Linked DNA regions of Homo sapiens: regions 1 and 2 are each linked to region 3. The links come from fine-mapping of genetic effects on gene expression. A gene starts in region 3. Each other region holds a variant in brackets. All regions are shown on one strand. Distances are between the middles of the regions.

The links. PIP is the estimated chance that this variant, and not a neighbour inherited with it, causes the effect.
Region 1: its variant is the best candidate, but not a certain one, in a credible set for the expression of FTSJ3 in whole blood (INTERVAL, PIP 0.63).
Region 2: its variant is the best candidate, but not a certain one, in a credible set for the expression of FTSJ3 in whole blood (TOPMed, PIP 0.63).

Annotation. Positions count from the first base shown.
Region 1 is chr17:63,845,244-63,856,345 of GRCh38, forward strand. No RefSeq gene overlaps it. Among named protein-coding and RNA genes, the nearest start is that of SMARCD2, 8.1 kb to the left of the region's middle. RefSeq lists a silencer at 7,286-7,580. The variant A/G (reference allele first, on the strand shown) is at 4,708.
Region 2 is chr17:63,754,416-63,759,415 of GRCh38, forward strand. It overlaps CCDC47 (coiled-coil domain containing 47), which reads right to left. Exons shown (of 13, transcript NM_020198.3): 7 at 2,054-2,155; 8 at 1,825-1,935; 9 at 18-103. Among named protein-coding and RNA genes, the nearest start is that of STRADA, 15 kb to the left of the region's middle. The variant C/T (reference allele first, on the strand shown) is at 2,020.
Region 3 is chr17:63,824,594-63,832,397 of GRCh38, forward strand. It overlaps FTSJ3 (FtsJ RNA 2'-O-methyltransferase 3), which reads right to left and starts at 3,070. Exons shown (of 21, transcript NM_017647.4): 1 at 2,459-3,070; 2 at 2,243-2,335; 3 at 1,974-2,079; 4 at 1,665-1,711; 5 at 1,463-1,542; 6 at 943-1,042; 7 at 649-843; 8 at 455-570; 9 at 232-336; 10 at 44-144. The coding sequence starts at 2,309. PSMC5 (proteasome 26S subunit, ATPase 5) reads left to right here and starts at 2,838. Exons shown (of 12, transcript NM_002805.6): 1 at 2,838-2,921; 2 at 3,545-3,616; 3 at 4,901-4,970; 4 at 5,259-5,356; 5 at 5,540-5,596; 6 at 5,678-5,908; 7 at 6,216-6,342; 8 at 6,443-6,633; 9 at 6,734-6,832; 10 at 6,913-7,023; 11 at 7,131-7,217; 12 at 7,323-7,426. The coding sequence starts at 2,898. The coding sequence ends at 7,376. It overlaps SMARCD2 (SWI/SNF related BAF chromatin remodeling complex subunit D2), which reads right to left. Exons shown (of 13, transcript NM_001098426.2): 13 at 7,488-7,804. RefSeq lists enhancers at 2,183-3,382, 2,519-2,798, 3,179-3,228.

The DNA.
Region 1 (11,102 bases), 22 kb after region 3:
CCCTGCTTACCTCCTTGGGTTCATTTTAAATCACTGCCTTTGGCTCTCCAAGCATTGGCCCAGATGGTCTCCTTGCAGTTTTTCAAACTACCCATCCCCTTCCCATCTCAGAGCCTCTCTGTTCTCTCACACCCTACTTCCCACCAAGTGATTATCACAGTACATCATTACTTAAGTGTGTGCTGATTTACTGTCTGATGTGGCTCACCCACTAAAATATAAACTCTACGAAGGCAGGATCTTTTTCTCTCTCAATTTATCTTTTTATTTTAAAATTTGTATTTTTTTAAGACAGTGATTTGCTAGGTTGCCCAGGCTGGCCTCAAACCCCTGGGCTCAAGTGATAGTTCCTGAATAGCTGAGTAGGTATACACCACACCTGGCTATTTTTTTAAATTGAAGTGAGATTTACGTAATAAAATTAACTGTTTGAAATTGCACAATTCAGTGGTATATATTACATTCACAATGTTGTGCAACACCTCCTCTACCTAGGTCCAAAATTTTGGGGTCCAAAATAATGACCCCAAAAGAAAACTCCATCCTCATTAGAAGTTGCTCCTCATTTCTTCCTCTTCCCAACTTCTGGCACCCACCAATCTGGGTTCTGTCTCTAGATTTATCTATTCTGGATACTTCATATAAATGGAATCATAATAGGTGGGTGTTGGGCATGGCTTCCTTCACTTAGCATAATGTTTTTGAGGTTCATCCATTTTGTAGCATGTATCAGTACTTCCTTTCTTCTTATGGCTGAATAATATTCCATTGTATGTATATAACACAATGTGTTCATCTGTTTGTCTTTGTATTTATTTGTTTATGACAGCATCTCGCTGTGTTGCCCAGGCTGATTTCAAACTCCTTAGCTCAAGTGATCCTCCTGCCTTGGCCTCCCAGAGTGCTAGGATTATAGGCATGAACCACCATGCCTGGCCCTATCCATTTATCTGTTGATGCGCAGTAGGGCTACTTCTACTTCTTGGCTATTCCAAGTAGTGCTGCTATGAATATATATTTGTATTTGAGTACCTGTTTTCAGTTATTTGGGGTATATACTGTGTCTCCCTTGATCCCTGTTGTAACTTAACAAATATGTATGAACAGACAATGTTTGAGTGTAGTGGGAGGGAATGATAAACAATAATATAATATCAGTTAATATCAGATATATCAGATAATATAAACAATGAGTTAACTGTGTTATGATAAAATATCCTTAAGGTGTTAGGGAGCAAATAGAGATATCTGAGGCATGGTAGAGATAAAAGGAAGATTTCCTACACAGTAGGCAGAGAATAGGTAACATTTACTGAGCATTTTCTACGTGAATTAGCTCATTTAATCATCACAACACATAGGAGGTAGATACCATATATGAGGTACACACTATTTTTACCTCTTTTTTTTTTTTTAAAGAGTTGGGGTCTCACTCTGTTGCCCAGGCTAGAGTGCAGTGGCATGATCATAGCTTGACTAATGGGGCCTCAAACTCCTGGGCTCAAGCAATCCTCCAACCTCTAAAAACTCCCGAGTACCTGGGACTACAGACACCAGCCTCTATGCCTGGCTCTATCTCTGTTTGAGAAATCAAAGCATGGAGATCCAGTCACTTGCCCACCCTCACTGTGATGGTGCTAGGATTCATCAAACCTGTTTCTGATCTGGCTCTAGAATCCAGTCTAGGGACTAACCATTACTTACCACCGATTTTTGGTAGCTGTGTGTCTGGTCTGTTATTACTTGCAAAGAAACTGTTAAAACTGAAAAGTGAGGCTGGGCAGGTGACTCATCCAGCACTTTGGGAGCTGAGGTGGGAGGATTGCTTGAGGGGTTCAAGACCAGACCAGGCAACATGGTGAGACCCTGTCTCTACAAGAAAATGAAAAAATTTGCAGAGTGTGATGGTGGGTGCCTGTGGTCCCAGCTACTTGGGAGGCTGAGGCAGGAGGATCACTTAAGCCCAGGAGTTTGAGGCTGCAGTGAGCTCTGATCATGCCACTGCACTCCAGCTAGGGCTACAGAGTGAGATGTTGTGTCTGGAAAACACAAAAACAAAAAACTGAAATGCAAGTGTCATAGACACTCAGAGAAAAAGAAGTTGATTGATAGGCCCTGATTAATCGAAGTTTCCTGGAACACTTTGAAGTGGAGGCAATATTCCCCTGCCTTTGTTCCCTCAGCTTGGAATGTCTGTTTCTCTTCCTCCCTTGATACTTATTCTGCTCAGTGCCCACTTTTCATGGACTTCATTCAACAACTTTTATTGAGCCCTTGTATGGTCCCAGGCTTACAGTTTAGAGGAGGGACTTTCCTATAACCTTGAGGCCCTGTTAACATCTACAGATACTCAAAGAGACTAAATGGAACTAAAAAGTATTTAACAAACTATTTAATAATAAAGTATTTAATACAACCAGAGCCAATGGGACAATTCCCAGCACAGACTCTGGGAATTTTGGCTCCTTGCCCAGCTGCATGAAAGTAGCACCCACCAAGTAGCTTGGAGAAAGGCCCTTGGAGCAAGGTGGCCCAGTGCTTGCCCTAGAGCAGGCCAGCAAAGGAACATTCCTCAGTATGGATGTCCTTCAGGGGGTTGGAATTTCATGAGAAGCAATGTGGATAGTCTGGTCATGGTGGGAAATGTTTACCAAGATGGCAGCACTGGCGGAGCTGTATCAGAGCCTGTCCCAGCTGGAGCACCCCGGCAGCTAAGTGTCCATCTCCCACATGGATGCAGAGTAGGGAGAGGAAGGGACAGTCAGGGCAGCAGAAGGACTGGATGCCAAGATAATGTAGCAGGTGCTGTACGCAGCATTTGAGAAGCATTTATTGAGCAACTTCTATGTGCCAGTCCCTGACATATGCTGGTAAAGAAGATAAATGCATAAACAGGTCATTTCCCCACATGACAACTGCTAAGATAAAAGTATTCACAAGGTACCATGGGGAAACAAGGAGGCCTTTAATGAGGGAAAGGGATTAATGAAGACTTCTTGGAGGAGGTAACAGGTGAGTTAAGCAAAGAAGACACAGTAAGAGTCAAAGGCATGAAGCTGTACAGGATGAGGAGAATCAGAGTGAGAGTTGCCAGATCACTGAATGTAAGGGAGAGCTCCTCTTCTGTGAGCACATTGTGGTCACAGTTCTCAACACACATACTGTCACAGCACAGTCTAGCGGTAAAATGCCTGAAGAGTACAGACTTGCAGTGAGCAGAGATCGCGCCACTGCACTCCAGCAGTGCAGATATCAGCATATAAGAAGTGGGCTTTGGGCCGGGCGCAGTGGCTCATGCCTGTAATCCCAAGACGGATCACCTGAGGTCAGGAGTTTGAGACCAGCCTGACCAACGTGGTGAAACCACGTCTCTACTAAAATTACAAAAATTAGTTGGACGTGGTGGCGCATGCCTGTAGTCCCAGCTACTCGGGAGGCTGAGGCAGGAGAATCGCTTGAACCCAGGAGGCAGAGGTTGCAGTGGGCTGAGATCGTGCCACTGCAGGCCAGCCTGGCGACAGAGCGAGACTCTGTTTCAAAACAAAAAAACAAGACTTTTTGCAAATTATCCATTGTCAAAACTCCGCCAAATACATCTCCCAGCCCGCCAGGGAGCAGCCAGCAGAGGCCGCAAGCTCGGCCAAGCGAGCCGGGATGTCCAAGGCGGGAACGTGGCTTCGCGCGCAACTCTCTGAGACGCGGGCCGGCTCACGTGTCCGGGCCGCACCACGAAAACAACAGCCACAGGGGAGAACAACCTCTTGTTTTCCTCATACAGCCGAGCTTTGCTGCAAACGATCCCTTTCCTTTTGTTTCCACATTGCGTTATTCAGAAGTGGTTATGCGGCGCCAAACACGCGCTTTCTGCCCCACAGGTTTCAGCCTTCCCCACCCTCATCTTCCCCGCGCTCCCCTCCCGTCGTTGTAGCTTCCTGCTCGCCCCTCTCATCTCAGCCAACCCTGCTGAGCTTTCGCGTGGGCGTCACGAGTTTCTAGGCAGATCAGGAAAACCGCTCTCCGGCCGCACCCTCGCGCGCCCCCGCCTGGCGGTGTAGAACAAACGGTCTGAGCGCTTGGCGGGCGACTGAGAGCGGAGCGGGCGAGGCCGAGGAGCGGAGGCTGAAGCCGTGAGGAGCGGCCCGGCGAGGGCGAGGGGCGTGCGAGCGGGCGGCCGCGGCTCGGTGAGGATTTCGGTCGTGTTTTCCTTGGCCGTCGCCGGAAGCCCGGAGAAGCCGGGTGGAACTGCCTTTTGAACGCGTTCTCACGTGTGTTAGGGATCGTCCTCCTGGAAGAGCCTTGATGGCCACGCGGTGTCCTCGCCCCTCTCTCCGCTGGACCCGAGGCCCCTTGCCAGCAAGAGCTGGCCTGGTGTCCGGTATCCACGTGGGGGGCAGTGGCCCTCACACAAGGATTGGTACCCATCTATCTAGTGCGTTGGTTCGTGCATTCACTTGTTCCTTTGTGGTCGTTGAACGCCTGTAACGTTCCAGGTGCTTGGGATCCATGAGTGAATAAAACCAAGGGCCCTGCCTTCCTTGGGACTTACAGTCCAGGGGAGACAGAGCCGCTGATTTCAGGTCTCATCAGTAAGTGACAGGGTGTTAGAGGGCGATAGTGCTGCGGAAGGGAAAGCGGTAGGCATGCGGGGGGTGCTGCGGTGAGGGGCGTGGGCAGGGAGGGCTGGGAAGCCCGAGGTCAGCGCAGGCC[A/G]CATTACAAAGAGACTGAACTGGATAGAGGAGTGTTTGGGGAGAAGGAAGATAATTCCAGGCTGATGGACGAGAGAGTGCAGAGGCCCAGTGTGACTTGTATTTATAAGGAACAGCGGCCGGGCATGGTGGTTCACGCCTGTAATCCCAGCATTTTGGGAGGTCAAGGTGGGCGGATCACTTGAGGTCAGGGGTTCGAGACCAGCCTGGCCAACACGGTGAAACCCTATCTCTACCAAAACTACAAAAATTAGCCAGGCAAGGTGGTGCGTGCCTGTAATTCCAGCTACTTGGGAGGCTGAGGCAGGAGAATCGCTTGAATCCGGGAGGCGGAGGTTGCAGTGAGCGGAGATGGGGCCATTGCACTCCAGTCTGGGCAACAAGAGCAAACTCCGTCTCAAAAAAAAAAAAAAAAAAAGGAAAGAAAGAAGAGAAAAGATAGAAAACAGCAAGAAACCCTTGAATATGAAAATATGAATGGAAGGCAAGAAAGAAAGAAGGAGGGAGGGAAGGGAGGGAGGGAGGGAAGGAAGGAAGGAGGCAGGGAGGGAAGGGAGAGGGAGAGAGGGAGGGAGGAAGGAAGGAAGGGAGGAGGGAGGGAGGGAGGAAGGAAGGGCAGCAAGAAACCACTGACTATGAATGGAAGGCGAGAATCCCAGACTTGGACGCGAAGTTTAGTTCACACGCGCGGCCAAAGCAATCCAACAGCATGCGTCCCCACCCTCCTCTCACTGCCTACCCCTCTCCTGCAAAAGACCTCCCAGTGACTGGAGTGCAGGCCAAGACTTTCAGACAGTTTAAACCATTTTTTTTTTTTGAGACAGAGTTTCGCTCTGGAATGCAGTGGCGCAGTCTTGGCTCACTGCAACCTCTGCCTCCCAGGTTCAAGCAATTCTCCTGCCTCAGCCTCCTGAGTAGCTGGAATTACAGGCGCCCACCACCACGTCCAGCTAATTTTTGTATTTTTAGTAGAGACAGTGTTTCACCATGTTGGCCAGGCTGGTCTTGAATTCCTGACCTCAGGTAATCTGCCTGCCTCGGCCTCCCAAAGTCCTGGGATTACAGGCATGAGCCACCGCTCCCAGCCTCAGTTTAAATTTCTAATTTGGGATATAATCCACAGAATAAGCAAAAGGAATTCCAAAATAAATTAAAAATAATTTCTCCTTGGGGTTACTGCTTTCTTTCTCCTTAGCAAGATAAATACAAAATTTTGTGTTTCAGAACCTGATCATAATGTGCTATGTGAAAACAAGGATGAAAGATTGGAGCTATGGGGATAGTGGGGTGAGGGCAGGGCATGAAACAACAAAGAACAAAGTATGTGTCTGTATATGGGTATGAAAACAAAAACAACTCGCCCAGGACTGTTTTTTCTTAAGACTCTTTACAGGCATAGAGATAATACTAGTAGCAACTACAAAGAAAAACCGATTAGCTTGGCTTATAGTAATGAGCAATGGGAATTTTTTTTTTTTCGTTTTTTTGCTAAGACTGTAAAAGCAGAACATAGTCTCTGAGATAAACTGACAGCAGTGCAGCCGGGCATGGTGGCTCACGCCTGTAATCCCAGCACTTTGGGAGGCCGAGGTGGGTGGATCATGAGGTCAGGAGATCAAGACAATCCTGGCTAACACAGGGAAACCTCATCTCTCTAAAAATACAAACAAAATTAGCTGGGCGGGGTGGCACATGCCTGTAGTCCCAGCTCCTCAGGAGGCTGAGGCAGAATCGCTTGAACCAGGGAGGTGGAGGTTGCAGTGAGCAGAGATTGCACCACTGCACTCCAGCCTGGGCGACAGAGCAAGACTCTGTCGCAAAAAAAAAAAAAAATTGACAGCAGTGCTAGGCTATGTAGCAGAAGGTAACATCAGGTCAGGTGCAGTGGCTCACACCTGTAATCCCAGCATTTTGGAATGCCTAGATGGGAGGACTGCTTGAACCCAGGAGTCTGAGGCTGCGGTGAGCTATGATCACACCACTGCACTCTAGCCTGGATAACTGAGTGAGACCCCATCTCAGGAAAAAAAAAAAAAAAAAAAGAGGCCGGGCGCGGTGGCTCACACCTGTAATCCCAGCACTTTGGGAGGCCGAGGCAGGCCGTTCACAAGGTCAGGAGATCAAGACCATCCTGGCGAACATCGTGAAACCCCATTCTACTAAAAATACAAAAAATTAGCCGGGTGTGGTGGTGGGCACCTGTAGTCCCAGCTACTTGGGAGGCTGAGGCAGGAGAATGGCGTGAACCCGGGAGGCGGAGCTTGCAGTGAGCGGAGATTGCGCCATTGCACTCCAGCCTGGGCGACAGAGTGAGACTTCGTCTCAAAAAAAAAAAAAAAAAAACCATCAACAACAACAAAAAAAGAACGTAACATCAGCAAGCTACAGAGAAGAGTAAAGCAGGAGTTCTTGGATTAATCTCTAAGAGGAATTGTTTGTGACACTGTGGCCCCATTAAAGCACAAATAATCTGGATTCATGTTATAGATTTAAACATCATAAGACCTACACATTGGAGAGTGTAACTGCTGGATTAGTTCTAACTGGTTCTACTCCGCTAATAATGGGGTATCAAGTTATTTTACCGGCACAGAGCCAAGAAGTTGCAAGTCATTACAGTCAGAACATGTGCAGAAAGGGAGACTTTAACCTCAAATAACCCGGGAACTAAAGTCTTGCCCCTCAACAGAACCAAAAGATTGGGACATGGCTGGAATATGAGCACAGGAACACTTTCAAAAGCAACGGGTCCAAGCCCAGGAACGTCCAGTGATAAGACCCTTTACCATATCTTACCATAAGTGGTACTGTTTGAAGTCCTTCGGATCAAAACCTGTCCTGCCAGCACTTCCACCTATGCCCGTGTCCTCCCTCACACTTAAAATTTGTTCCAGACTCCAGATTGAAGAGACATATTTGAGCCTGTCTTCTTGCTCAGCCACCTTGCAATAAAAAGTCTGGTGCTTCAGTGTTTGGCTTTACATTGCACGTGGACAGACCGACCTGGTTTGGTTCGGTAACAAAGAGGAGAGCTTGCTTTATTTATTTATTTATTTATTTATGACAAGGTCTTCCTCTGTTGCCCAGGCTGGGAGTACAGAGGTGTGGTCATGGCTCACTGCAGCCTCAAACTCTTTGGCTCAAGTGATCCTCCCACCTCAGCCTCACAGGTAGCTAGCACTACAGGTGAGCATAACCACACCTGGCTAATTCTTTAATTTTTTTGTAGAGACAGGGGTCTTGCTATGTTGCCTAGGTTGCTCTCAAACCAGTGGGCTCAAGCAATTCTCCCACTTTGGTGTCCCAAAATGCTGGGATTATAGGCATGAGTCACCGCACCCAGCTTAATTTTTCTTATATGGCTTAAAAGCCAGTTCTAAATTACTTTCAGGCTGGGCATGGTGGCTTATGCCTGTAATCCCAGAACCTTGGGAGGCTTAGGTGTAAGGATCACTGGAGGCCAGTAGTTCAAGATTAGCCTGGACAACATAGTGAGACCCCTGTCTCTACAAAAACATTAATAAAAAAATTATCTGGGTGTGGTGGTGTGTGCTTGTAGTCCCTGCGACTCAAGAGACTGAGGTGGGAGGATTGCTTGAGCCCAGGAATTTGAGGCTGCAGCAAGCTGTGATCATACCACTGCACTTCAGCCTGGGCAACAAAGCAAGACCCTGTCTCAATATATAAATAAATAATTTCAAAAAAGGTTTTGAATAATTGTGTCATCCTGGAAAAAGATGATAGCCTTCCAAAGTGGTTATTTTGAAGGGTAACCTTCACTTGGGAGTATAAATTTTCATATGCCTGTTATCCCTGTATTAAAAAAAAAAACTCTTTCAGACCAGCATAGAAGTGGAGTTAGACCTGTTCCAAACCCACTGTATGAAAATTAAATACAAAATTGGAGGGTAGTCCTTCATTTATGGAATACCCAGAATATCATAGGCTCTGTGCTAGGTGCTGGAGACACAAGATAAGTACACTAGAGCCTCTTACCCTCAAGGAATTTCTAGTATAGTGATGATTACATCACTGAAATAATTCACCAAAGTGAACTAATATATGCAACTTCAGAAATCTTGTTTGGCATAAAGTGAGGTAGAGATCATGTATAACAAGTAAGGGACTGTGAAGTGGGATAAGGCTAGTCAAGAAGCCTTTCTTAGAAGAAATTAGCTTGAATGAGTTTTTGTTTTGTTTTATTTTTTTGAGATGGAGTCTCACTCTGTCACCCAGGCTGGAGTGCAGTCGCATGATCTCGGCTCACTGCAACCTCCGCCTCCTGAGTTCAAGTGATTCTCCCGCCTCAGCCTCCCGAGTAGCTGGGATTATAGGCACCCACCACCACGCCCGACTAATTTTGTATTTTTTTAGTAGAGACGGGGTTTCACCATGTTGGCCAGGCTGGCCTGAAACTCCTACCTCAGGTGATCCACCCGCCTCAGCCTCCCAAAGTGCTGGGATTACAAGTATGAGCCACCGTGCCCAGTCTAAACTCAGTTTTTCATGTTTCCATGCCAGCACCCTTCTATTGACTCAGTCTAATAGATGGAGGCAAACTAGTAAAAAGGTAAGTAGAATACAACTTATACAGGAATCTTGATAATATCGCCTCATCCTTTTTCATATTTTCCCCCATGTTTTTGCTATGCACATAAGCTAAACTGAAATAAATAGATATAAGACATTCTTTTAGTACACCTTCACTGCTGATGTTTTTGCTGTAATTTTTCTAGACTAGTGAGGTTTCAGAAAAAGGGACTGAGTTTTAATATCAAATAAGCAATTTTCCTTATATATATATTTTTGGTCACTTTCTCCAGCATTGCTGTCTTTTTCTCTCCAGCCTTTGGCCCTTCTTATCAGGATGAAAACGCTTCTGTTTGGTGTCTGGACCCTGCTGGCCTTGATCCTTTGCCCAGGTGAGGCTATTCGGGAAAGCTTTTTAAACCAGTATGTGTCAGGACACAGGTAGCTGGTCAGTGAGGAAGGGGGTGGGGAGTCCTGAGTGGGGTGACACTTCAGTGTTCATTCATCTGGACCCGGGGGAAAGATTCCTGTCTCTTGGATCACTAGGACACAGAATCGTTACGGTCTCTGGCTTGTATTTGGGATAACACTAGTTAATAGACTATCAGAGAGGACTCTCCCTAGGAAACATGCCTTCTCCGCTTGGTTCCCTTCTGCCCCAGGACTGCCCTGTGTTTCTCCTCTTGAGAATGTTTTTACTTCTTTGTTGCCACCGTTTGTGTCATGATGAACTATAATAGGCTCTTGGTAGGACAGGACCCATACATAGCTCAGGTACAGAAAGTGAGTTCTCCTGATGACGGGAAAGGAACAGGGGCCTTAGCAGGTAACATTGCTACAAGAGCTGTGTATTCCCAGAGGGGACTGGTATTGGGAGGTGAAGTAGATGGTAGATATGGACTAGCTAAAGAGGACCTGTAGAGAAGCCTTCAGGACTTCCTGAAGTCTCCGTGCCCTTTACCTACATCAGGCATCTAAAATCCATCCGAGGCCAGGCGTGGTGGCTTGGCCAGGCACAGTGGCTCATGCCTATAATCCCAGCACTTTGGGAGGCTGAGGCAGGCGGATCACCCAAAGTCACGAGTTCGAGACCAGCCTGACCAACATGGTGAAACCCCGTCTCTACTAAAATTAGCCGGGCGTGGTGGCATGCACCTGTAATCCCAGCTACTTGGGAGGCTGAGGCAGGAGAATCACTTGAACATGGGAGGCGGAGGTTGCAGTGAGCCGAGATCGTGCCATTGCACTCCAGCCTGGGCAAAAAGAGTGAAACTCTGTCTCAAAAATAAAATAAAATAAAGTAAAATAAAATAAAAATCCATCTGACATCTCCCATTGCATCAGAGAAGATTTCCAGAACAGACGAAATTTGTAAGCATCCAAAACATCCATTCCCTTAGCGCCAAATCAAAATGGAATGGTCTCACTCTGAGAAGAGGCATAAAGAAGAGGCATGGAAAATGAGTGACCCTGGGAGTTACCTGCAGGCCAATGGATCTGAGAATTTGGTGTGCATAAGGGTCCCCGGGAGGCTTGTTTTATTCCTTAGCATATTTTCAGGTCCCACCTTCACAGGTTTGAAACCATGCGCTCTGAGGTGGAGTTGGAGTCTGCAGTTTACAAGCATTTAGGATGATTCTGGCAAAGGGAATCCTTAGCCATAATTTGAGAGAGACACTGCTTTCAGGGATAAGTAATGAAGTTCGAATCCTGTGAGGGTCCACAGCAGCCTATTATGGGGAGCTTTCAAGAATTCTGAAAGTTTAGGAAGATATTGGTTTCCTGGGCATAATTTTTTTTAGCAACTCCATAATTTCCATGGTGATACTAATAGAGAATTCAAGTTCTCAAGAAAGATGATAGGTG
Region 2 (5,000 bases), 72 kb before region 3:
TTTTATCTTATACGTACTCTTGCATAATTTTTGGACCAGAGAACTGGTCTGAAAAATGAACAGATTCAATCTTGTCAGCATAGTGTGTAAGAAAGTGAACCATCTGAAAAAAAGAAAATAATATTTTTTAAAAGCAAGGTTTAATGCATTTCCCTTTTTTTCCTAAAGATATTCACTCTTTGAGATGGTGCAACGGCTCACACCAGTAATCCCCGCACTTTGGGAGGCAGGTGGATTACTTGAGGCAAGGAGTTTGAGAATTTGAGATCAGCCTGGCCAACACAGTGAAACACCGTCTCTACTAAAAATACAAAAAAATTAGCCGGGCATGGTGGCATGTGCCTGTAACCCCAGCTATCCAAGAGGCTGAGGCACGAGAAGCGTTTGAACCCGGGAGGTGGAGGTTGCCGTGAGCAGAGACCACGCCACTGTACTCCGGTCTGGGCGACAGAGCAACACTCTGTCTCAAAAAAAAGAAAAAAAAAAAAAAAGAAATTCACCTTTCAATCCTTACTTTTATACAATGTCCTTCATTAAGACCAAAGCGTGTTCATTGCTTTTTATTTATTTTTTGTGACAAGGTGTTGCTCTCTTACCCAGGCTAGAGTGCAGTGGCACAATCATAGCTTACCATAGCCTTAATCTCCTGGGCTCAAGTGATCTTCCTGCCTCAGCCTCCTGAGTAGCTGGGACTAAAGGAACACACAACCACACCTGGCTAATTTTTTTATTGTAGAGACAGGGTCTCACTATGTTGCCCAGGCTAGTCCTGAATCCCTGGACTCAAGTGATTCTCCTGCCTCCGCCACCCAAAGTGTTGAGATTACAAGTGTGAACCACAGCGCGCGGACAAGGCTAAAGCTTTTTAAAAATTAAATTTCAATAAGATAGGGAATCTCTTTAGAATTAAAGTAGTACTCCAGGCTGGGTGCAGTGGCTCATGCCTGTAATCCAAGCGCTTTGGGAGGCCAAGGTGGGTGGATCACTTGAGGCCAGGAATTCCAGACCAGCCTGGCCAACACAGCGAAACCCCATCTCTACTAAGAAAAAAAAAAAAAAAAAAAAAGTAGTACTCCTTTTTAGTCATACCAATGATTAAGATTCTTTTCGAGCAGCTAAAAATATTTCTCAAAATAATGGTCGAAACAAGAATGAAAGCATAAAGATAACACCTAAAATAATTTCAGGGGATCCTTTATAAACATGTCACCTTGAACTTACATTTATAACCATCTCTGAGTTATCCTGTATTCTTATGATACTAAGATCTGTTACCATTACACAACCAATAGAAAGAAATGGCTCTCTCAGCCAGGCACAATGGTGGGCTCTTGCTGAGGCAGGAGGAACACTTGAGCCCAGAAGTTTTTGATGCTGCAGTGAGATCTATCACACACATGAATAGCCACTGCACTCCAGCCTGGGCAACATCTCAAGACCCCATCTTTTTAAAAACAAAGGAGGAGGGCTCTCTACACATCCCTCTTCTCCCACACAAACTGGAGCTCAAAAAAAAAAAAAAAAAAGACTAAATGACATGACGAAAAAGATTAGAAGCTATATTCCTTTTTCAAAAAAAAACCTGAAAGTCATTAGCAATCCCAGGAACAATTTGCTCTTGATTTAGAGAACTTCTTGACTAATCAAATTGTCCTTTTGACAAGCTAATTTATTGCTTAAAGAAGGTATTTTAATATTTGTGTGGGAAAGGAATGTAAAACTAATACATTGCCATAAAATGATGAACTTGTACAATGAGACTTTTAGGGAGAGTGTCCTGTAAATGCCAAGGCCTGGCAAATGTATGTCTTCTGTCGCATTTACCTTTGTATCCATCATTCCGTCTGTGACTTCTCCCATCTCTGACAGGATGGCCAAAGAGTCCGGCAGTCCATACTTTGCTCCAGACTTAGGTTTATCACTACAAAACTCACTCTAGAGGAAGAAGTAATTGAAAGTAAGATATGACCTTTTATTATGCAATGAAGCTGAATATGTGTGTGCTAAGGAGACACAGTT[C/T]TACGTATATTTGAGTTGGAGCAACCTGACATACCAAATCCTGCATCTCTTTCTGTAGTCGCACCAAGGCTTTCCGTGTGCCAACAGCAAATACGTAGGTATCCATGTCTTCATCATTCATGGTTACTTTTATTTGCTTTTAAAAAAATGTAAAAAACAACAAAATTCACCTGTTAGGTTCTGTGATAGGCAGATTTCTAAATGACCCTTAAGATTCCCTCCCCGCTGGTGCATATACTCTCCCTTTAAGTGATTGGGATTTGCAAATATGATGGAATATTACCCCCATAATCAGGCTGTTTTATGGCAGAAGGTCCCTAATCAGCTGACTGTGAATTAACCAAAAGGGACATTATCTTGGGTGTATCCAACTTAATCAAGCAAGTCCTTAAAAGGGACTATAGCCCTACTTGAAGAAGAAAGTCAAAATATGAAAGGGCTTATGGGAAGGTTGGCGGTAGGGCACATATGGTAAAGACCTAAGGGTGGCCTTTAGGAACTGAGTGGTTCCCAGTTGACAGCTAGCAAGAAAATAGGGACTACAGTAGTTCGTGCCTTTAAGCCTAGCTACCTGGGAGGCTGAGGCATGACTGCTTGATGTCAGGAGTTTGAGACCAGACCCGATCTCTAAAAAAGAAAGAAAAGGCCAGGCATGGTGGCTCACACCTGTAATCCTAGCACTTTAGGAGGCAAAAGGAGGAAGACTGCTTGAGCCCAGGAGTTCAAGACCAGCCTAGGCAACATAATGGGACCCCATCTGTACAAAAAAAAAAAAAAAGAAAGAAAAATTAGCCAGGCATTGTGATGCATGCCTGTAGTCCCAGCTACTCAAGAGGCTGAGGCAGGAGGATCGATTGAGCCCCAGAAGCTGGAGGCTGTAGTAAGTGATGATCGTGCACTCCATGCTAGGTGACAGAGCAAGACCCTGTCTCAAAAAAAATTAAAAAAAAAAAAAAAGGAAAAGAAAACAGGAACCTACACCCACAAGGAACTGAATTCTGCCAACAACCCAAATGACATTAAGAGGACCCTAAGCTTCAGAGAACTCTAACCTGAATGACATCTTGATTTCAGCCTGTTAAAACCCTAGAGGACCCACTCAATACATGCTGCACTTCTGACCTGCAGAAACGGTAACATAATAAATGAGGGTTGTTTTAAGCTGCTACACTTGGGTAATTTGCTATGTAGTAATAGAACACGAATACACTCAATACTTCACACAGGAGCACTCAAGTCCAAAAATAAAAAATAAACAAAACCTAAATGGAATAATGTGGAATAAACTGAAATATATTTGGTTTTTATCCCAGGTTTCAGGCACAGAGCTCCTAAAGCCCTTTGAATTTCCTGAATAACAAGAGTATCTTTTGTTACTTATACTGAGCCCCTTTTAATCACACCTGAGTTTATTCTAATGGGGTGACTTAACATAGACCCTAGTTAGCCTCAGGATGGTGCCGATAACCAGAAAAACCAAGTGCTTAGAGGGTAGAGACCTTCAGCCTTGCCCTTACCTCCGTGAAAGAGAGGGAGGACGAAATTGAGTTCTACAAAAACTCTTGAACAAGATTTAGAGAGCTTCCAAGCTGGTGAACACATCAACCTGCTGGGAGGGTGGTGTGCTCAGGGAGGGCATGAAAGCTCCGAACGACTCCCAACCCTGTTTCTTCCTGTGTCTTTCTTTCATTTGGCTACTCCTGAGTTTTATCCCTTATAATAAACCAGTAAATATAAGTGTCTTTTCAAGTTCTATGAGCCATTCTAACAAATTATTGGTTGAGTGGGGAGGTCATAGGAACCCGATTAATAGTTAGTTGGTCAGAAGTCCAGATGGTAGTATGGGTAACCTGGGACATTCGACTGCATCTGAAGTGGGGCAGTCTTGTGGGGCTGAGCCCTTTAATCTGTAGGATTTGAAGCTAACTCCAGGTAGATAGTGTCAGAACTGAATTGAGGCTGGGCACAGTGGCTCATGCCTGTAATCCCAGCACTTTGGGAGGCCCAGGTGAGAGGATCACTTAAGGACAGGGCAACATGAACTGCCTGGGCAACATAGCAAATCTCGGTCTCTAGAAAAAAAAAAAATTTAAATTTACAAAATTAAAAAGAATTATTATTATTATTGAATTCAATTGTGGGATACCCAGTTGGTATACAGAGAATCTGAGAATTGGCTGTTTGTATTGGAAAACAGTCCAGACAAGTAAACAGTTACTAGTACTCTGGGCCAGAAAGATAAAAAATTATAAGCCTAAAAGAGTCTGATATGATATATTTGTTATATTAATTACATCTTTAAATGCTTGGGTGAAATAATTTTTAGTATATGGAAGAAGGAAAATGTTAATATAGGAAAAGAACTGGTAAGATGGCAGCTGTAAAAGAAAACGTTTTCTGCTCTTCCATCATTGATGGGAAATTACACAAAGCAAACCTTAAACAGAATTCCAAAAAAAGGGGCAAATAAAATATAAAGAGCCACATATTTGTTGAAGCAATTTCTCTTAGCAGGAGGAGAGAGAGAGAGAGGGAATGAGAACTGAAAATGATTAAAACACTTTTAAAGAATAATTTTTACAAAAAGATGGCTGAGGATACAGCAAACTTTCCTCCTAATAAGATGGCAGTTTGTGGGAGAAAGGATGACAGAAATATTAACTGATAGGGTTCTAAATTTTAGTGGACTAAGTCATCATGGCCATGTTAGAAAAACTGAAATAAAAATACAGGTTTACAAGTAAAAATGAGATCTTTAAAATATAACAGTGGGGCTGGGTGCAGTGACTCTTGCCTGTAATCCCAGCACTTTGGGAGGCTGAGGCGGGTGGATCACCTGAGGTCAGAAGTTCGAGACCAGCCTGACCAACATGGTGAAACCCCGTCTCTACTAAAAATACAAAAATTAGCTGGGCATGGTGGCAGGCGCCTGTAATCTCAACTGCTTGGGAGGCTGAGGCAGGAAAATCGCTTGAACCCTG
Region 3 (7,804 bases):
TGCCTCCAGGGCTCCTGGCCCCCGTGCCTACCCCACTCCATACCTGAGCTCCTTGCGCCCCAACACTCTGATGTCCTGACAGCACACCCGTATGTCCTCAGTGGTAGCTGGATGCTGTGCCAACTCTTCATCATCTACCATGATCTGTTTGGGAGGATGGAAAGGTGTCAGGGGAGATCCTCAGGCCATGTTTCTGGGGCTACCTCATGTCCCTCAAGGCTGGAGACTCACTTCGCTGGCCTTGGAGAGGAAGTCAACAGGGTTGGCAGCTCGGAGGAAGTCAGTGACTGAGGTACGGTGATAGAGAGTGAGGTCACCCTCAGCATAGCCTTCAGCCTTAGGAAGGAAAAGAGAGAAGCTTGGTCAGGCCCTTCTAAGGTACCTGTAGGACCCACCAGGCCCAACCTCCCTAGAGTTCCAGGACCCAAGAGTGACCCCATTCCCCAAAACACACCTTTGGCTTCTTCTTAGTAACCAATTCAGTAACGGTCTTAGCCTGAACTTCAACCTCCTTAAAGGCAAATTTGGGGTCAAAGAATTTACTGTCAACCTTGTCAGGGGCCAGGAATCCTAAAAATGACAGGATATATTAAAAAGTGTGCTTTGGGAGTTGGGAGCCTGGATCAAGAGAAAGGAAATGATGCCCACCTTGGCAGACTACAAAGATCTCTGCAGATTCATGGCGAGAGGCTTGGGGCTTGGTGGCCTGGACACGGCGGAACAGCTGCTGAAAGATCCATAGCAGAGGCTGATAGTCACGAGAACGGAAAACCTTTGTGATGAAGCTGCCACCACGGGCCAAAAAGTCACAAGCCAAACGTAGAGCCATCAGTGTCAAATGGGCTGTAGGATAGAGACAATTAGTTGACGCACTCTGCAGCCCAGGAGGGCATGCGCCCACCTCCACCATCACCTGATCTCCAAGCACCACACTCCCTGTACCTTGTGAGTAAGCATCATGGACCCAGCTAGCCCCAACGTTGGGGGCCCCATCATTGAGCACAACATCAACCTTCCAGGTCTTCAGCTCCTTCCTCAGGGCCTAAAGAGAAGAAAAGGAACTATGGAAACAGAAACACTGGAATGGCCCTGGTTCAGCCATTTGTCCATCTAGTCATTTGCTGAGTGCCCATCATGGGCCAAATGCAGTACCAGGCACAGGAGATACAATAGTAAACAAAAACAGTATGTCTCTACCTTCATGGAGATTACAGTCTGACACTGAATTCACAGGAGAAGACTTCACTAAAGATCTCTGCCCTTCTCCCAATTCCAAACACCTTTATCCCTGACTCTAAATAAAGCCTGGAGTGGACACTACGAATGCCATAGGTCTTGTCGTACAGATGTCAGGCAAGAACGTGCTCAAAGCACGGTAAAAAGGAAAAACTTGCCTTTAGAGGATTTCAGGGATGTAGATGTTTCCGTATAAAGGGGGAAGGAAGAGAGAGACTCCTATTACCTGCCTACAACGTTCTGTTGTGATGTCCTGCTGGAGAGTCACCACATTGGGGAGAGGCTTGATTGGAACCAGGTCCACTCCTGGAAGAAATCAGGTCAGAGTATTCTAAAAGGTTGCTTCAAGCAGGGAGGAGAGAAATACAGGACAAAATACCTTATACACCCACCCCTTAAAACACCAAGGAGAGCTGTCCGTTACTCACCCACAATAAGGCTGGATACAGGCATAAACTTGGCAGCTACCTGCAGCCTATAAAAGGAACAGAAATTTAAAAACCTAGAGCCATCCTTTTCCCCCTCTTGGCAACTGATCTCTCATCCCTGGTGTTACGTGTACTGGCCAAAGCATATCATAGGCACGTATTCCAAGCCCTTTCTCTGCAATCAAGAAAGGAAACGGCCCCCAAGAGGACCGGGATTCGGGTTCCCCTCCCGCAGTGAAACTGGAAGCCATCCCAGCTCAGAACCCAGAAAGCGGCCACCAGGAGCAACCTGTGGCGAGTGTTACGAACCATCCCCCTGGCGCAGCACACAGGTCCAGCAAGGCTCGGGCTTTCTGCAGGAACTGAAAGCGGCGATTGAGCTGGATCAGCTTGAAAGCAGATCGGGAACGGTAACCTGGACAAAACAACCAAGTGCGCAAACTGCTTCACTAGTAGGATTTCTCCGGCCTCGCAACCGACCACCCCTTCTGCAGGAGAGGTACATAATGGTCGCAAAGAGCAGGCGAACCGGGCAGAGATCGCTCGCTCGCTCGCAGACTGAGCGAATCCGGACTCACCCGTCTCCTTCGCCAAGTGATAAAACTTGTCTCGTCGGCTCTTGCCAACTTTGCCCTTCTTGCCCATGGTGGAAAGGGGGAGTATCCCTCAATCTGGGGAGAAAGTAGAAGTTGGGAACGTCTCTTTCCGGAGCACCAGATTCCACTTCCAGTTTCCCACTTCCAGTTTCCCACTTCCCGCAGCAATTCCACCCCGCGCCCCTCTCCGCACACTACCTAGACCCAGAGCCGCTTTCTCCACACTTGGAACCGCACAAGTATGCAGCTAACTACTTCCGCTTCCGCTTGCGTCCCCTGCGTCCCTGGCTCGAGGTTTTCCGCCATTTTGAGTGTGGCCCTAGATTGTTCTCAATACTCTGTCCTTGGGTTTTGTAAGTTGAAAGTTGAGACTAGGAAGGCATATCACAAGAACTATAAACAGAGTTTCAATGAGGCAACACTGAGGAGGAGTTCTACTCCTTCCTCATCCCCTTCCAAAGCCCCTGAACTCGAGTAGCCGCCCCTCCCATCATGGTTCCCTTAGTGTGGTCTCGCCGCACACCCCGCCCATTGACCCGGAATTCTTCTCTGCCTGGTCTTCAGGTCCCAATCCTCCGCTTCCGCGCTTGCGCGCCAAGACGGCTCGGATGCCGGCGGTCTCTGCTGAAGAGAGAAGATGGCGCTTGACGGACCAGAGCAGGTATGGCGGGTGCAGTGGCGGCCCGGCAGGTTACGGGGCTGGGTGCGGAGCGAGCGTGATCTGAGTGGAGAGCGGGCCGGGGCAGGAGCGTCGGGTGGGTCGGAGGTGCCTGGACCAGTCCATGCTGGACGCTGCCTGCGACCGGATCTGCTGTGTCAGCGCCGCCCTCGGTGAGTCAGGGCAAGGCTGGGAGAGGAAGACGCGGTAGAAGCGGAGTGAGTGAGGGAAGCGATGGGCGCGGGAATGGCCGGCCCACGGGTCGCAGGAGACGGGACGCCAGTCCTTTGGCTCCGTTCCGCTGGCTCCTTCGTCAGTACTGACACCTCGGGCTTGTAGAGCACTTCACGCAGTGCAAAGCGCCCCCCGTCTATATCATATCGCCTCTCGGTCCTCCTAAAAGTCGTATGAGGTAGGCGGCGTTCCCATTCTTTTATTTTAGTCCTGGGAAAATGGAGGGTTCCAAGGGAGGGAGGGATTAGAACCCAGATCCTGAGCCTCCGAAGTCCAAACTTTTTCTACTACGCAAAGCTACCTGGTGTCAAGCCTTATTCAAAGTGCCCTGCAAGTGGCTTTACCCCCTCGGATGTTTAACCTGTCGTTTAAGACTCACTCTGTGTCTTCAGATGGAGCTGGAGGAGGGGAAGGCAGGCAGCGGACTCCGCCAATATTATCTGTCCAAGATTGAAGAACTCCAGGTGAGGACGGACTCCAGAGGGAGCTAGGAAGGGTGATGATGGGGGATGGAAACGGACTTCCACAAATCCATCTAATTCCTTTGGGAGTGCAGTGGAAGAAGCTGCTGCTTCTCCTTTCTTGTTTGTTTCTTAGCTAGTAGGGTGTATGTATCAGAAGTAAGCAATCTCTTGTTCTCCTCCAGTCCCATCTCTTTGAGGGTCTTAGTGTTCACAGTTTGTTACACATCTTCGAGTCAAATCTTAATAGTAAAGGTACCTCTAGCCAAAGGTCAACCCTTTTGGAAGAAGCCCGAATGAAAAGGATTCTTATAAAAGGGAAACATAAGCTCAGGAGTTGAAATTTATCACCAAGAGGTTGGGTGAGGGTGAAGTGAGAATGTGAGGAAGGGCATCATTGAGGGATCTGGACAATGCTAATTCCATAGAGACTGAATGAAAGAAATTGGGCAACCCAGAGCCCTAGCCTAAAGCGCTAAACCATAGAAAAAGGACCGTTTATGTTGTTAATCAAATGTTTGTGTTACCAGTAAGGCTTCCAGCAGTAAGGTATGGCTTCCAGTAGTAAGCCTTACAGACAACATAAACAGTAGTCTGTTAGTGTTACGTTATACTGTTACGGTAGGCTGTTAGTAGTTTAACTTTGGACAGGTCCATGGATTTTCAATTTCACCCTAACCCCCTGCGTTGTTCAAGTGTCAACTGTAATATAAATTGGATGGGGGAAAGCCACAAAAGACAATTCTGAATTCCAAGTGCATTTGCAGGTATTATGTTTAGTTTACCATTTTTGAATGCTTTTTCATGTGTTTTTATTCGTTCACCTTAGTAGTCTTGAAGCAGGGTAGCTGATGCTATACCCATGTGCCGTTTGGTAACAGATCTAGATTTTTAAAAATAGATTGTCTTACCTTTACTTTGCTTTTGATTGACAGCGGCTGGGCTAGAACTCAGGTTTCTCACCTAACAATCTTTCCACCAGGTGTTGTTGCCTTCCTGCAAGAAATTTGGTGTTACATGAGCCAGCTGTAACTTTTCTCCATTAGATTCTGTTACTCCTGGACCAGTATTGGACAAGCAGCCTTCTTTGATGGCTGCTGTAAGGTCCAGAGGGACTCTTGAAGGACAGGGCAGGGTCATTAGGATCATACTGGAGAATCTGAAACAACATGCAGGTGCCCTGTGCCCTTCCCTCAGCTCATTCAGACCTGTGAGGTCTTGGCCAAGATCCTACCTCCTCCTGTCTCCTGCCCTTGAATAATGGAATTTGTCTCTTGTCTGCCACAGCTGATTGTGAATGATAAGAGCCAAAACCTCCGGAGGCTGCAGGCACAGAGGAACGAACTAAATGCTAAAGGTGAGTGGAGAAAGATGGGAAGCCGCATGTGGGCAGTTTGTCTGAGGTCTGTCCTTATCTCCCTGCACTGTGTCTTCACAGCAGTGCTTACTGTTTTCTCCCTGTCATCATCTAGTAGTTTCACATGCATCTCTTTTTCCTGAGCCCTATTGTAGCCTCCTTAAATACATGAATTTTGACCTTTGGCCTTCCTTTAATAAGAGTGATGCTTAGCTCATGCACGTAGAATTGGGTCCTGGAGACTCCAAAGGAGTAGCTAGGTGACCACTGTGTCTGTTTGCCATCTAGTTCGCCTATTGCGGGAGGAGCTACAGCTGCTGCAGGAGCAGGGCTCCTATGTGGGGGAAGTAGTCCGGGCCATGGATAAGAAGAAAGTGTTGGTCAAGGTAAAAGCAGCATGACCCCAGGGACCAGCTCGGTCTCCACTGCATTCCCACCCCTTTGTGTGTAGCCTCGGGAGACAGGGTTCTGTGTTCTGTCAAGGTATTGTGGGATTCTCATAGGTCTTCCTGGGTAGGATTAGTGATTTGGTGGCTGTCAAGGAAGGTCATGAGCCCTTGTTTCTTTAGGTACATCCTGAAGGTAAATTTGTTGTAGACGTGGACAAAAACATTGACATCAATGATGTGAGTGTAGCAGGTGAGGTGGTGGTGGTGGTGGGGTCAGCTCTTACTGTACCACTTCTGAAACTCGCCCCCTTCACCCAGGTGACACCCAATTGCCGGGTGGCTCTAAGGAATGACAGCTACACTCTGCACAAGATCCTGCCCAACAAGGTAGACCCATTAGTGTCACTGATGATGGTGGAGAAAGTACCAGATTCAACTTATGAGATGATTGGTGGACTGGACAAACAGATCAAGGAGATCAAAGAAGTGATCGAGCTGCCTGTTAAGCATCCTGAGCTCTTCGAAGCACTGGGCATTGCTCAGCCCAAGGTGAGGAGCAGGGCTTCTCTGAGAGGGCCAAGCTGTACTTACTCCTCCTGCCCCAGCCAGCCCTACTGCAGGGGTTGGGGAGGCACCGGGATAGGCTGCATCTTGCTTGGGCTGGCCCTCCCCCTGAAAAGAGTGGCTGGGGAAGTGTTCCTAGGGCGGTGAGGTGGTTTGGATAGAAGGGACCTTGATGTTCCTTTTTTTTTTTTGTATCCCTAACATCTAGCAAGGGACCCAGCACTCGGTAAATGTTCACTGAATGAAATGAGGGGTGTAGCTTTCTGCCCTGAGTCCTGCTGTTCCCCTGTAGGGAGTGCTGCTGTATGGACCTCCAGGCACTGGGAAGACACTGTTGGCCCGGGCTGTGGCTCATCATACGGACTGTACCTTTATTCGTGTCTCTGGCTCTGAACTGGTACAGAAATTCATAGGGGAAGGTAACCATGGCTAGCAATGTGAGAAGCAAGAGGTAGGGGTAGGGGGTTAGAGAGCTAATAAGCTAATAAGCTCCCTAACACCAGCTCGGCCTCCACACAGGGGCAAGAATGGTGAGGGAGCTGTTTGTCATGGCACGGGAACATGCTCCATCTATCATCTTCATGGACGAAATCGACTCCATCGGCTCCTCGCGGCTGGAGGGGGGTTCTGGAGGGGACAGTGAAGTGCAGCGCACGATGCTGGAGTTGCTCAACCAGCTCGACGGCTTTGAGGCCACCAAGAACATCAAGGTAAGGTGGTAGCATCCTTGGGATGGGCCCAGGGAAGGCCTGGGTGCCACGCAGGCTGAGGAAGAGGTTTAGCTGATCCCCACTTGCTTTCTCTGCTCAGGTTATCATGGCTACTAATAGGATTGATATCCTGGACTCGGCACTGCTTCGCCCAGGGCGCATTGACAGAAAAATTGAATTCCCACCCCCCAATGAGGAGGTTTGTGATGGACACTGTGCAAAGTGGCTCTGGCTGTGGGGGTGGGGTGTGGGGCTCAGGCTTTTCCTTGCCATCTCCAGGCCCGGCTGGACATTTTGAAGATTCATTCTCGGAAGATGAACCTGACCCGGGGGATCAACCTGAGAAAAATTGCTGAGCTCATGCCAGGAGCATCAGGGGCTGAAGTGAAGGTAATTGGAGTACCCACTGAAAACAGGGCAGAGGCAGGAAGCTCTGGGCTCAAGGGCCACAGATGAGGGGCACAGCAGTGGGGCCTCAATTTCCTTTTCCTGTTCAGGGCGTGTGCACAGAAGCTGGCATGTATGCCCTGCGAGAACGGCGAGTCCATGTCACTCAGGAGGACTTTGAGATGGCAGTAGCCAAGGTATAGGCCTCCATCTTTGTGCCTTTGCCAGTGGTGGCTCTGGGGCAGTGGGCTAGGGCATGTGTGTGTTCGTAACTTAATGTTCATTCTCTCTCCCACCCCTAGGTCATGCAGAAGGACAGTGAGAAAAACATGTCCATCAAGAAATTATGGAAGTGAGTGGACAGCCTTTGTGTGTATCTCTCCAATAAAGCTCTGTGGGCCAAGTCCTCTAGGACTCCAGTCTGTTAATGAGGGCTGTGCTGTTCAAGGACCAGGTCCAGGCACCACCAATAGACAAAAGGATTTATTTGGAAATTTCCAAACCTGCCAGATGTGGCACTCGCCAAGCCCTAGGCCCACCCTCCTCACCAAGCTCCAAAGGGCAACACCAGTCCTCCCAGCCTCCCCATTCACCTTACCCTGGCCTCCACATGCACATACCCCATACCTCAGGCCATGCTAGAGAACTGGAGTGTCCCCTCCCCGGCCCAAGCCGCTGGAGAGGCAGCCCTCTGGCATCCCAGGAGATGATGGCGGCCAGAGCCGCTTGCATAGATTGAGGAAAGAAAAGAAGGAGGCACCTAACAGGCTCCCTGAAAACCCCC